Regions from separate parts of the Homo sapiens genome. Here region 1 is linked to region 2. Evidence: fine-mapped expression QTL. A gene starts in region 2. The other region holds a variant in brackets. All regions are shown on one strand. Distances are between the middles of the regions. Region 1 overlaps SEPTIN9 (septin 9). Region 2 holds the start of SEPTIN9 (septin 9).

What was found.
Region 1: its variant is fine-mapped to the expression of SEPTIN9 in whole blood (INTERVAL, PIP above 0.99).

The regions. Positions count from the first base shown.
Region 1 is chr17:77,347,331-77,352,702 of GRCh38, reverse strand. All of the region lies in intron 2 of SEPTIN9 (septin 9), which reads right to left. Among named protein-coding and RNA genes, the nearest start is that of MIR4316, 47 kb to the left of the region's middle. The variant G/A (reference allele first, on the strand shown) is at 3,328.
Region 2 is chr17:77,279,200-77,284,571 of GRCh38, reverse strand. It overlaps SEPTIN9 (septin 9), which reads right to left and starts at 3,073. Exons shown (of 12, transcript NM_001113491.2): 1 at 3,018-3,073. The coding sequence starts at 3,036. SEPTIN9-DT (SEPTIN9 divergent transcript) reads left to right here and starts at 2,675. Exons shown (of 3, transcript NR_136503.1): 1 at 2,675-2,960. RefSeq lists a silencer at 2,579-2,742 and an enhancer at 4,344-4,991.

The sequences.
Region 1 (5,372 bases), 68 kb before region 2:
ACAGAATGAGAACCTGTCCCTAAAAATAAATTAAAAAGACAACAGAGAGGGCAGTTTGGACAGAGACACAAGAAGAGACACAGGGTGAAGGCCAGGTGGGGGGTAGGCCGAGCTGCAAGCCGAGGAATACCAGGGGTTGCTGGCCGCCGCAGAGCTCGGAGAAAGGCATGGGACAGTCTCCCTCGGAACCCCCAGGAGGAATGAACCTTCAGACACCTCGGTCTGGGATTTCTGGCTCCAGAAACTTTAGGGAAGACATTTCGGATGTTTTTGTTTTTGTTTTTGTTTTTGTTTTTGAGACGGAGTCTTGCTCTGTCACCCAGGCTGGAGTGCAATGGCGCGATCTCGGCTCACTGCAACCTCCACCTCCAAGGTTCATGCCATTCTCCTGCCTCAGCCTCCTGAGCAGCTGGGACTACAGGCACCCACCACCACGCCCGGCTAATTTTTTTTTTTTTTTTGTATTTTTAGTAGAGACGGGGTTTCACCATGTTAGCCAGGATGGTCTCGATCTCCTGACCTCGTGATCCAACCGCCTCGGCCTCCCAAAGTGCTGGGATTACAGGCATGAGCCACCGCACGTGGCCGATTTCGGATGTTTTGAGTCACCTCATTTGTGGTCCTTTGTTATGACAGCCGCAGGACAGTAACACAGGGCCTCAGCAGGGTGGCCCGGCAAGGGCCCCTCCCCCACGGCAGCCCTTATTTTGTCTCATCTGCAGGGTCACCCAGATGCTCACCCCGGCTCTGGTCAGCAAGTGTCAGTGCATTTTCCCACGTCCAGCAGTAAGGGCAGCACCGCTGCTGACCAAGCACCTGCCATGTCGGGGCCCCTGTGTGGTCCTGGGGCTCCTCTCTCCTGTTCACACTTGGCAGCTCAGTTCCCTTCTCTGCACCTCATCTGATGCCGGGGCTCTGGGCAAGCCTGGGGGACCTGTGCTTTATTTCACAGATTTCCCAGCTGACTTCATCAGCCCCTGCACAGGGCCCGCCTGAAGGGCCGCTGGGCTGGGCGCCAACCAGAGTCCTCAGCAGCAGCCTTCTCGGCTCTCTGACCTTGGCCCATGTCTCAGGGGCAGGGCCTCCAAGGGCCCTGGGGCCGCCTCTGAGGTCAGCCTTCCTGCTGACCGCAGCTCACACAGAGGAGGGCCTAACCTTGAGTGTGGCCGCCCGTGACCTTGAGAGATGCCCAGAGCTGCAGACGTGTCTCCCAAGCCCTCCAGAGCCCGGGACAGGAGCCACTCAATGTCCCCAGTGCCATAGGCAAAATTTGCTCTTCTCAACATAAACTGTCCCCAGCCCCACTTAATGTTCCCTTCAACGAGCAGCAACAAAAACATGGTTTTCTGCCAAAGGTGGGGCCTACAGTTTCCCAGAACCCGGTTTCCTGCCAGGCCTAGGTACAATCCACAGGAGTGCTCGCCCCTGACTCGTGTGTGTGTGTGTGTGTGTGTGTGTGTGTGTGTGTGTGTGTTGTGTGCACGCGCACATGTGCCTGCGCAAGTCCCTCCATGTGCAGCCTTGGGAAGGGTGGAGAGGCTCACGGAAATTCTTTCTGGCACTTAGTAAGCCAGAAAAAAGGAAAATGAGATCTGTGTACACATGTGCAAGTGCATACACAGCACACAGGCACACACATATACACACTCAGCACACACCACACAGGTCCACACGTGCACACATGTGCAGGCACACACCACACAGGTCCACACGTGCACACACATGGGGGCACACAGCACACAGGCACACACAGGCACACACACCCCCCTGCAGGAAAGCCCTTCCTTGTCTTTCACTCTGCAGGGTCCTCAGGCTTCATGAAACAAGATTGAATTTTGGAAGTTTGATAAAAGGTCTGTCTGGAGCATTCTGGTCATCTCCACCAGCCCTTCTAGTTGTGGAAGGCATGCCTCGTGGCATCTACCCACCTCCTGTTCCCACCCTCACCCCCGCCCCCGTTTCCTCCTCTCTGCTCCTTTAGCCCACATGCTGCCTGCTCCAATCCCAACCTTTGCACTTGGACGGGAATTATTTCCTCTGTAGAAGGGTGTAATGCATGTGGGGACACACACACACACACACACACACACACTGCACTGGAGGAGAGAAGAGAGGCAGAGCTTCTTCCAGATCTAGAGCTCTAGCGAGTGACGGGATTTCTCCTAGAGAACACGTGCAGAAGTCTGCGTTACTGGAAGAAGACACTACCCTGACTCACACTCTCTCTCCTCTCTCTCGTCTCTCTCACAGAGAAGGAAAGGCCCCAGCAAACAGTGGTCATGTGGGCCTCCTGCATGCCACTGGTAGCCCCCCAGCTAGGACCACCTCTCCTTTATCCCTGGAAGCACAAGAACAGAGAGAAGGGTGAGTTTCTGCCTTTGGGGGCTCCTTTCTGCACCCCTCTGGAGCTAACCCCAGGGCTGTGGGCTGCACAGGAAGGAGGGCTCAACAGGCTTCCCGCCCAACCCTGCCCCTCTAGTGAGGAGCCGACCCACCCTGTCTGCAAAAGATGCTGGTTGGGACCTGATGCTGGGCAACTTGAGGAGAAGAGAAGGGGGACAGGGGCTGAGGCCAGGCCCCTGGCCCTGAAACAGCCATAACTCCTGGGGTAGAGTCCAAGGGTGCTAGGCTGGAGACCCCACATTCGGCCAGCTGGCAGTCACCACCCTGGTCTAGCCAGTGGTCTAGGGCACCATAGCCACCCAGACCAGGAATTCCACTTTTCTGGACTGTACTAATGAGGAAGGTTGAGCCTGTAGGTTTTACACACTCATGGCAACTTCAAGGCAGAGAGGCCACTGCCAACTGAGGGCCACGGGCAGGAGCTTTGTGAGCCCATCAGCAAGTCTGGAAGATCAAGGCTCCTGGTCACAGAGAGTAGCTGCTATCTGGTCAATTCTGCAGAAAACATTATAGCTCTGGACAAAATATTTGAAAGAACAAAATAACAACAGCCTGGAGTCAGTATAGAATATCTCAAGTAGGTAGAAGCTGGAGTAGAGTCTACACCTGACAGAGGGGAATAAAACTAGATAAGTTTCTGGTTTCTGGAGGCTTTTTTGCCCAGAGGTAGGTACTGAGCAATCAAACTTGGATAAAAAGTCTTAAAAGCATCCAGGGAAAAACAACATGTGGTCTACAGGGGAATAGCTAGATGAATGCTGATTCCTTGACAGAAACAACGGAGGCCAAAGACACTGGAACCCTATATTTTAAAGTCCTGAAAGAAAAAACTGACAACTCAGAATTCTATAACCAGTGAAATTATGGTTCAAGAATGACAGCAGGCTGGGCACAGTGGCTCACACCTATAATCCCAGCATTTTA[G/A]GAGGCCAAAGCAGGCAGATCACTTGAGGTCAGGAGTTCGAGACCAGCCTGGCCATCATGGTGAAATCCCATCTCTACTAAAAATACAAAAATTAGCTGGGTATGATGGCACATGCCTGTAGTCCCAGCTACTTGGGAGGCTGAGGCAGGAGAATCGTTTGAGCCCGGGAGGAGAAGGTTGGTGAGTTGAGATTGGGCAGGAGTTTTGAAATCACACCATTGCACTGTAGCCTGTGGGGAGACAGAGTGAGACTCTGTCTCAAAAATAAAAATAAAAATAAAAAAAGAAAGAATGACAGCAAAATAAAGATTTGCAGATAAGTGAAAATGAAAGGGAATTAGCTGTCTGCAAACCTGCACTACAAAAACCGTGAAGCAAGTTCTCCAAGATCATGGGAAATGAGACCAGATGGGAACTCAGCTCTTCAGGAAGGAATGAAGAGCACAGGATATAGCAAATACATGGGCAAATAGAAAAGATTCTGTTTTACTTTTAATTTCTTTAAAATGCATGGGGCTGTTTAAAGCAAAAATTTCCTTATTGTATTGTCTAGTTTACAATGTGTATGGATGTAGTAAATATCTAACAACCATCACATACAGGATGGAAAGTGGTAAATGAACCCATAGGATTGCCTAGTTCTTACACTTTTTTTCCATGAAGAAAAACAATGTTAATTCTAAGTAGACTGTGAAAAGCTAAGAATGTGCAATAGAATCTATAAAGTAACTACTAAAATAGCAATACAAAGAGATACAATTAAAAAGTCAAAACAGGCCGGGCTCAGTGGCTCACGCTTGTAATCCCAGCACTTTGGGAGGCCAGGGTGGGCGGATCGCCTGAGGTCAGGAGTTCGAGGCCAGCCTGGCCAGCATGGTGAAACCCCGTCTTTACTAAAAATACAAAAATTAGCCGGCCGTGGTGGCAGGCGTCTGTAATCCCAGTATACTAGGGAAGCTGAGGCAGGAGAATCACTTGAACCCAGGAGGCAGAGGTTGCAGTGAGCCAAGATCATGCTATTGCACTCCAGCCTGGGCAACAGAGTGAGACTCTGTCTTAAAAAAAAAAAAAAAAAAAAAACATAAATTAAAATAGAATTCTAAAAAATACTTAATTAACATAAAAGAAGCCAAGAAAGCAAGATGAAAGAAATAAATATCAAAGAGCAAGGTAGTAGCTCTAAACCCAGTCATATCTATAACTATGTTAAACAGAAATAGCCTGAATATTCCAATTAAAAGGCGGAGGCTGTCAGAATGAATAAAATAGCAAGACTCAACTATATACTATCTACAAAAGATGCTGTTTCAGTATAAACACAGGTTGAAATTTTCTGTTTGGAAAAAGACATACTGATGCTGCTTGAATGATGATGGAGTTATGTCTTGACAAACCCATCATAAGTGGAAAATAAATATCATCTCAAAAATGCACTTAATACATCTAACTTACCGAACATTCTAGCTTAGCCTAGCCTACCTTAACATGATTAGAACACTTACTTCAGCCTACAGTTGAGCAAAATCAACAAACACAAAGCCTATTTTATAATAAAGTGTTGACTATCTCATGTAAGTTATTGAATACTGTACTGAAAGTGAGAAACACAATGGTTTCACACATACTTAAAGTACAGTTTCTACTGTATACATACCACGTTCGCACCATGGTAAAGTTGAAAAACTGTAAGTCAAACCATCATAAGTTTCTCCATAAGCCTCTCCAGCCTTCTTATGCATCCCAAACAGCATGTTTAAGAAGGCTGGAGAGGCTACATAAATATCAATAAAGTTGAGTCCAAGATAAAATTATTACGAGATAAAGGAATACATTCATCATGGTTAAATGATCAGTTCATCGAGACACCATTATAATCATAAATGTGTATGCACCTAACCAAAGGAGCTTCAAAATACATGATATAAAACCTGAAAGAATTAAAGGGAGAAATGGGCAATTCCACAATCATAGGTGGAGACTCTTTTTTTTTTTTTTTGAGACGGAGTTTCACTCTTGTTGCCCAGGCTGGAGTACAATGGTGCAA
Region 2 (5,372 bases):
TGAGAACCTTGTGCCACAGGGAGAGGCGCAGCCTGGTGAGATTTAATCCCAAGGGGCTGGCGGCTCTGAGCCCCCAAGTGTAACCACTGGACCACACTGCCTGTAGACTACCACTACCTCCACCCCATTGGAAGGCCGGGTGAGGCAATCGGGAAAGCCTGGAGCAGCAGTGGAGCTGCCAGAGAGAACCTGTCCCCAGTGTCCCCCTGGATCCTGCAGCTGCCCTGTGTGGGCCCTTGCTGCCTTCCGCATTGGAAAAGACCTTCTTACAGATGGGGTCTCATGACGCCACCCAGGCTGGAGTGCCGTGTCTATTTCCAGGCGCTGTCACAGGGCTGCAGCCTTGAACTCCTGGCTTCAAGCGATCCTCCTGTCTCAGCCTCCTGAGTAGCCTCCTGGGCTCAAGCGATCCTCGTGTCTCAGCCTCCTGAGTAGCCTCCTGGGCTCAAGCGATCCTCGTGTCTCAGCCTCCTGAGTAGCTGGGACTTCAAGCGCACCTGGCCAAGTCCCTTTTTATTCTCCACTACTCAAGACTTCTCCTTCCTCAAGGCCCAGCTCAATCTCACCTCCACCTAAAACCTCCGGGGCATTCCTGTAGTATTTGGAGGCTGAACTGCTCAGGAGGGAAGGGTGTTAATGAGCTGGTGTCTCGCCCTCATCCTGACTCCCGGTGAGAATGTAAGTTCTCTGCAGGCAAGGACTATATCTCATTACCATTTCTGTACCCACTCAGACTTGGCCATGTGTGCCCAGCACATAAAGTGTCTTCGATGACTGTCTATAGACCCACGGTACTTGAGATTGCCCCAACACATCCTTCTAAAATCTTTCTCCTTTTCAGAGGCTCACGAATGTTCAAACCAGGTCTACCGGGAACAACATTATGGTCATTCCGTTTATTCTGAAGCCCACATACAGGTCTGGAAGCAATAATCCCGCACAGTCTAGATGAAAAAATAAAGACCTTCCTGTTGTCCTTGGATTGTCAGAGCCTTGGGGGATTTTTAACATCTTTTGCTGCTTTCCTTAATTTCATGGTGTCGATGGCTTGTTGGGGGGTCAGCCTGACTCCTGCGAGTGCCCGTACCCGGAAAAGGGCTGGTGCCAAGACAGCTCCAGGACACTCAGAATGAGGGCAAGAGGCCACCCCCACCATCAGCCCCCTCCAGTCCCACTCCATACAACTGCAACACAGTGACCCAGCACACCTTGGGCCACTGCCAAGCAGGGAGCAAACCAGAAATGGTCTGAGCCCTCCCTTCCCCCATCCTCAGAGGGGCCTGCCCCTTTAGGTAAACACAAGGAGGCACCGAGGCTGCTGTACAAGAGTTGGTTCCTGCTCACTCCACAAACTCTACTTCCACCTACTGCAAAAGGTTCTGTCCTTTTTTTTAAAAAAAAAAAAAAAAAAGAAACCCAGTGAGGGGTGGGGTAGGTGTGTGTGGAGGAGAGGAGAAAAGGACAAGTGATGGTCTCCCCACCTCCCAGTAAGCCGCAGGTGCAGAGACTCCAAGCCTGCCTCAGGGCCCTTCCGGCATCTGTGCAGGAGGGTCTCCGCAGAAAAAACCCAGGACCCACGACCTGGGAGGACCCCGGTCACCCCCACTGTCTGGACCCACCAGTGGGAGGTAAAGTGTAAGAAACCAAGGGCAAAGGGCCCTCCCTGGGCGGGCTAGAGATCCCCTGGAAAGGGCCATGCACCGCGCGATCCCCACAACAATCTCAAGTATTTGGAGCATGTTGGGGAGGAAGCCCCGGTGCCAAAACCAAGCATGTGCCACCTGGAAGCCCGCTCCCGCCCACCAGCACACCAACCCACCCACGCTCCTGACAGAGCTGTGCTCCGGGTGCGTAGAGGGCCATCTTGTTCGCAACAACCGGGTGAAAGTTGAAATTCTAAGCTACTGACCCAGAAGGGTATTTTCGGGGAAGTTCTGAGTAATCCTCTTTGAGACAAGGTACTTTATCACTCATTTTGGTTCCTAAATATGGAAAGCCAGAGGAAACCGACAATGGCCCAAAGGCAGGGGGATGGCCCCGATGACTCCTTCACCTCCAACTAAGGCCCATGATTCTGTTCTCCTATCAATAAAAATTAATTCATGGATCCTTGGCAGGTACCTTTCTATCTGAATGAATTAAAGGAGGGACATTAAACAAACGGTTTCTAGATTTAGAAGAGGAGACGCTATTTATAATTTGAGGACTGAGGAGGACAAAGGATCCTGCCTGCCTGGATCCTTTGGAGAAAACCACAAAGGAAAAAAAAAAGGAAGGAAAAGACAAATAATGAAGATCTGGATTTCTCTTAACCTGCCCTTGTGGCCTCGGTGTGCCCATCTGTGAAATGGAACTTCAGAGTGCCAGAGCGGGAGCCTCTTATGAAATGAAAGCTCCTGAACCGGCTCATGGTGAGGCCCAAGTCAGGCCCCCTTCGCCTACTTAAGGCGGGCCCTGCTAGGGTGGAGTGAGGATGTCAGCCGCGGGCGGCGTCCTGAGCGCAAAACGTGAACCCGAGTCGCCAAGTTTGGGCGCTGCTGGACGGTCCCATCTGGAGGCCGTCCCGTGCCCCACTAAGTAGAGGAGAAACCGAAGAGAATCCGAAGAAAGGATGCTGCGGCCTGGACCACCAGCCCTAGAGGCTGAACCCAAGGACACCCCTCCACCTAGCCCCGACCCCATTCACCCACACAGACGCACAGGGACCCAAAGCACCCGGCCGACCTGGAAAGTCAGCGATTCCTGCGAGGGTGCAAGGGGCGAGGAAGAGGGAGCGTCCCCCAGGGCAGCCCCTCCGACACTCGAGCAAGGGCTGGAGACAGCGCAGGGGACGGTCGGCTCAGGTCGAAAGCGGCCCGACAGCGGCCCTGTCCTGGGAGGAACTCGACCTGCAGTGTGCCCGCCGCGGGGACTCGCTCAGCTCCGGGGGCGCCTCGCCACTCCCGGCCGCAGGCACTCAGGTGAGCAGCGCTGGTCCCGGGACACCGACCCCTCCCCACCCCGGGCGCGAAGCCCACCTGAGTAAGACTTCTTCATGGTGCCTCCGTGGCCGCCGCTCCCAGGAAAGTGTGGCGGCGAGGCAGCGGGGCGCGCGCTCCCAGGGCGCTAATCCTGGGCCGGTAGTAGGAAGGCGGGAAGAGGGGGCGGCCCGCCGTCTGGAGTGCACCGACCGGGCCCCGCCCCGGCCCCGCCCCCGCCCCGCCCCTCCCCGGAGATGCGCATAGAACCCCGGCCCAGCCGGCTGTGGTCCCGCCCCTGACCCGCCCCCTCCCCGCCCCGTGAACGTGCGCGCCGAGCCCCACCCCCGCCCACCCCTGCGCTGCGCTGCACCTGGCGGAGCGGGGCTGGCGGGCGCCGGGCCTGGGAGGGGGCGCCCCCGCGCGGCAGCGCAGACCAGACCAGACCAGGCCAGGCCGGGGGTGGGGGCCGCCTGCGTGGCCCGCCGCGCCCGCAGCTCTGCACCCCCAGCTCCCCGCGCTGGCGCCAATGGCTGGTTCCGGGAGTCGCCGCACTTCCCAGTCCCGAGTCCGGGCGGGGCGGGCCCGGCCAGGTGGAAGCGGGCGGAGGTGCGGGCGCTCCGGGCGGCCCCGCCGGGCGAGGCGGCGGCGCCGGGCACCGCGGCGGCGCCGGGCACAGCCGGGGGTCGGAGCCGGGGTGCCGGCTTAGTGGGCCGGGGTAGGGCGGGACAGGACACCTGTCCTGCTACTTTTCTGGTAATCAAAAGGGCAGAGTGCGTCGATTGAGTTGGAGCCTTAGTTTCCTCACCTGTAAATGGGCGCGTTGGACAGATGATCATTTGTTCTCCCTGCGCTGGGCACCGTGCGCAGCTCGGTGTATCGGTGCAGCGGGGCAGACACAGGGAGCCGCCCTTTACAACTCGGGTAACGCAGGCAGTGGTGAGAGGATGCAAAACTTGCACGGAAGAATTCTCTCTACTTGGATATCCTTAAAGTCTCCACGATAAAGCGGTGTTTCCAACGTACAGAGGAAGAAGTGACTAATTATGACTGGAGGGTGGTGTCAGAGTTTTATTGAGGCGAAATCAAAACAGGGTTTTAAGGAATGAGCAGGAATTAGCCAGGCAGCCAAGGTGATGGAAGGCAGCTGTTCCCGAAAGAGGGAAGGGCGTGGCGGAGCCTGGGAGGCCTGAGGTATCACAGCGAGTGTGGAGAGACAGAGGCAGGGCCGGGCCCTTGCACAGCTGCCAATGGAGGCCGTAGAGGACGAGAGGAAGGCGGGAGGCCAGTTGGGAAGCGCTCGCTAGTTCTGGGTAGGGGCGCAGCATTGCCTTCTCCTGCAGCCCTCCCAAAAATGCACAGGAGGCTGAAAGTGTCACTAACAGCCCCGAAAAATCCTCCTCCTCTTCCCCTCTCCTTTACTCTCCTTGGGGGTCCAAGAAGCATTTTCATTTCCTGCCTGAGTGTGGGAAACTTATATGCATGAGAACGGAGGCCTATGTGGCACCGTGGGTTCGTTCCGGCCCACCTGCTTCCTTTCTTGAGTAATCTGTCCAGCCACAGCCCTGCAGAGGGAGCAGCCCAGCCAGAGGAGTTTCCCCTCACCCCAGGTAGAGCTGATTGGACCGGAGTGGACACTGGACTTCAACTGAGTCCACCCCTTTCCTTATCTGGGGGTTAGAGGCTCAGGAGGCCTCGGGAGGGAAGTGCTGTAAGGGAGGGGAGCAGGGAGTATGGACGAATTGTGAACAGCGTCCTGGATTCTGGGATGTCCACACCCTAACCGCAACCCCCACCCACACGCCCACTCACCGCTTGTACCAGCACCAGCAGATTCCGGCTTAGGCCGTGTCCTGACTTGGCCAGCAAGCACCATGATGACACTGCCCCCAGCCTAGCCATGATGACACTGCCACGAGCCTAATGCCTGGGATTCCCAAAGTCCAGCGGTGTCTCAAGAATCTGGGTTATGGGTGCATTGCTGGCTTTGTCCATTTTACTCAGCACAAGTCAGAGGTGCCCTGGAGCACAGTCACCCTGAGGATGCCAGCCCTGGCTGTTCCCTGGCTTTGGGTAGGTGGGTTCCTCTGCGGATGCTCACGCTTCTGCCTGGGGTCACAATTCACAGGAACCTGGGCACCCAGGACCCAAGGACACCTGCGTGGAGTGATGTTGGACACATCACATGGGTGCCTCCTGTGTGATGGTTCCTGGATATCCGAATTTTCCTTCCGATTCCAAGAAATCAGAAAGAAGGACAAGAGAGAGGGAGGGAAGGCTGGGAATGAGGGTTCTACACATTTTTGAGATGCATGAAGCTTAATCTGTCATGAAATTAGAGTTAAAAAAAAAAAAGAAAAATTAAAGAGATGCACGAAGCTTAATTGTTTAAGCCTCAAATTTTGTTTTTATTTA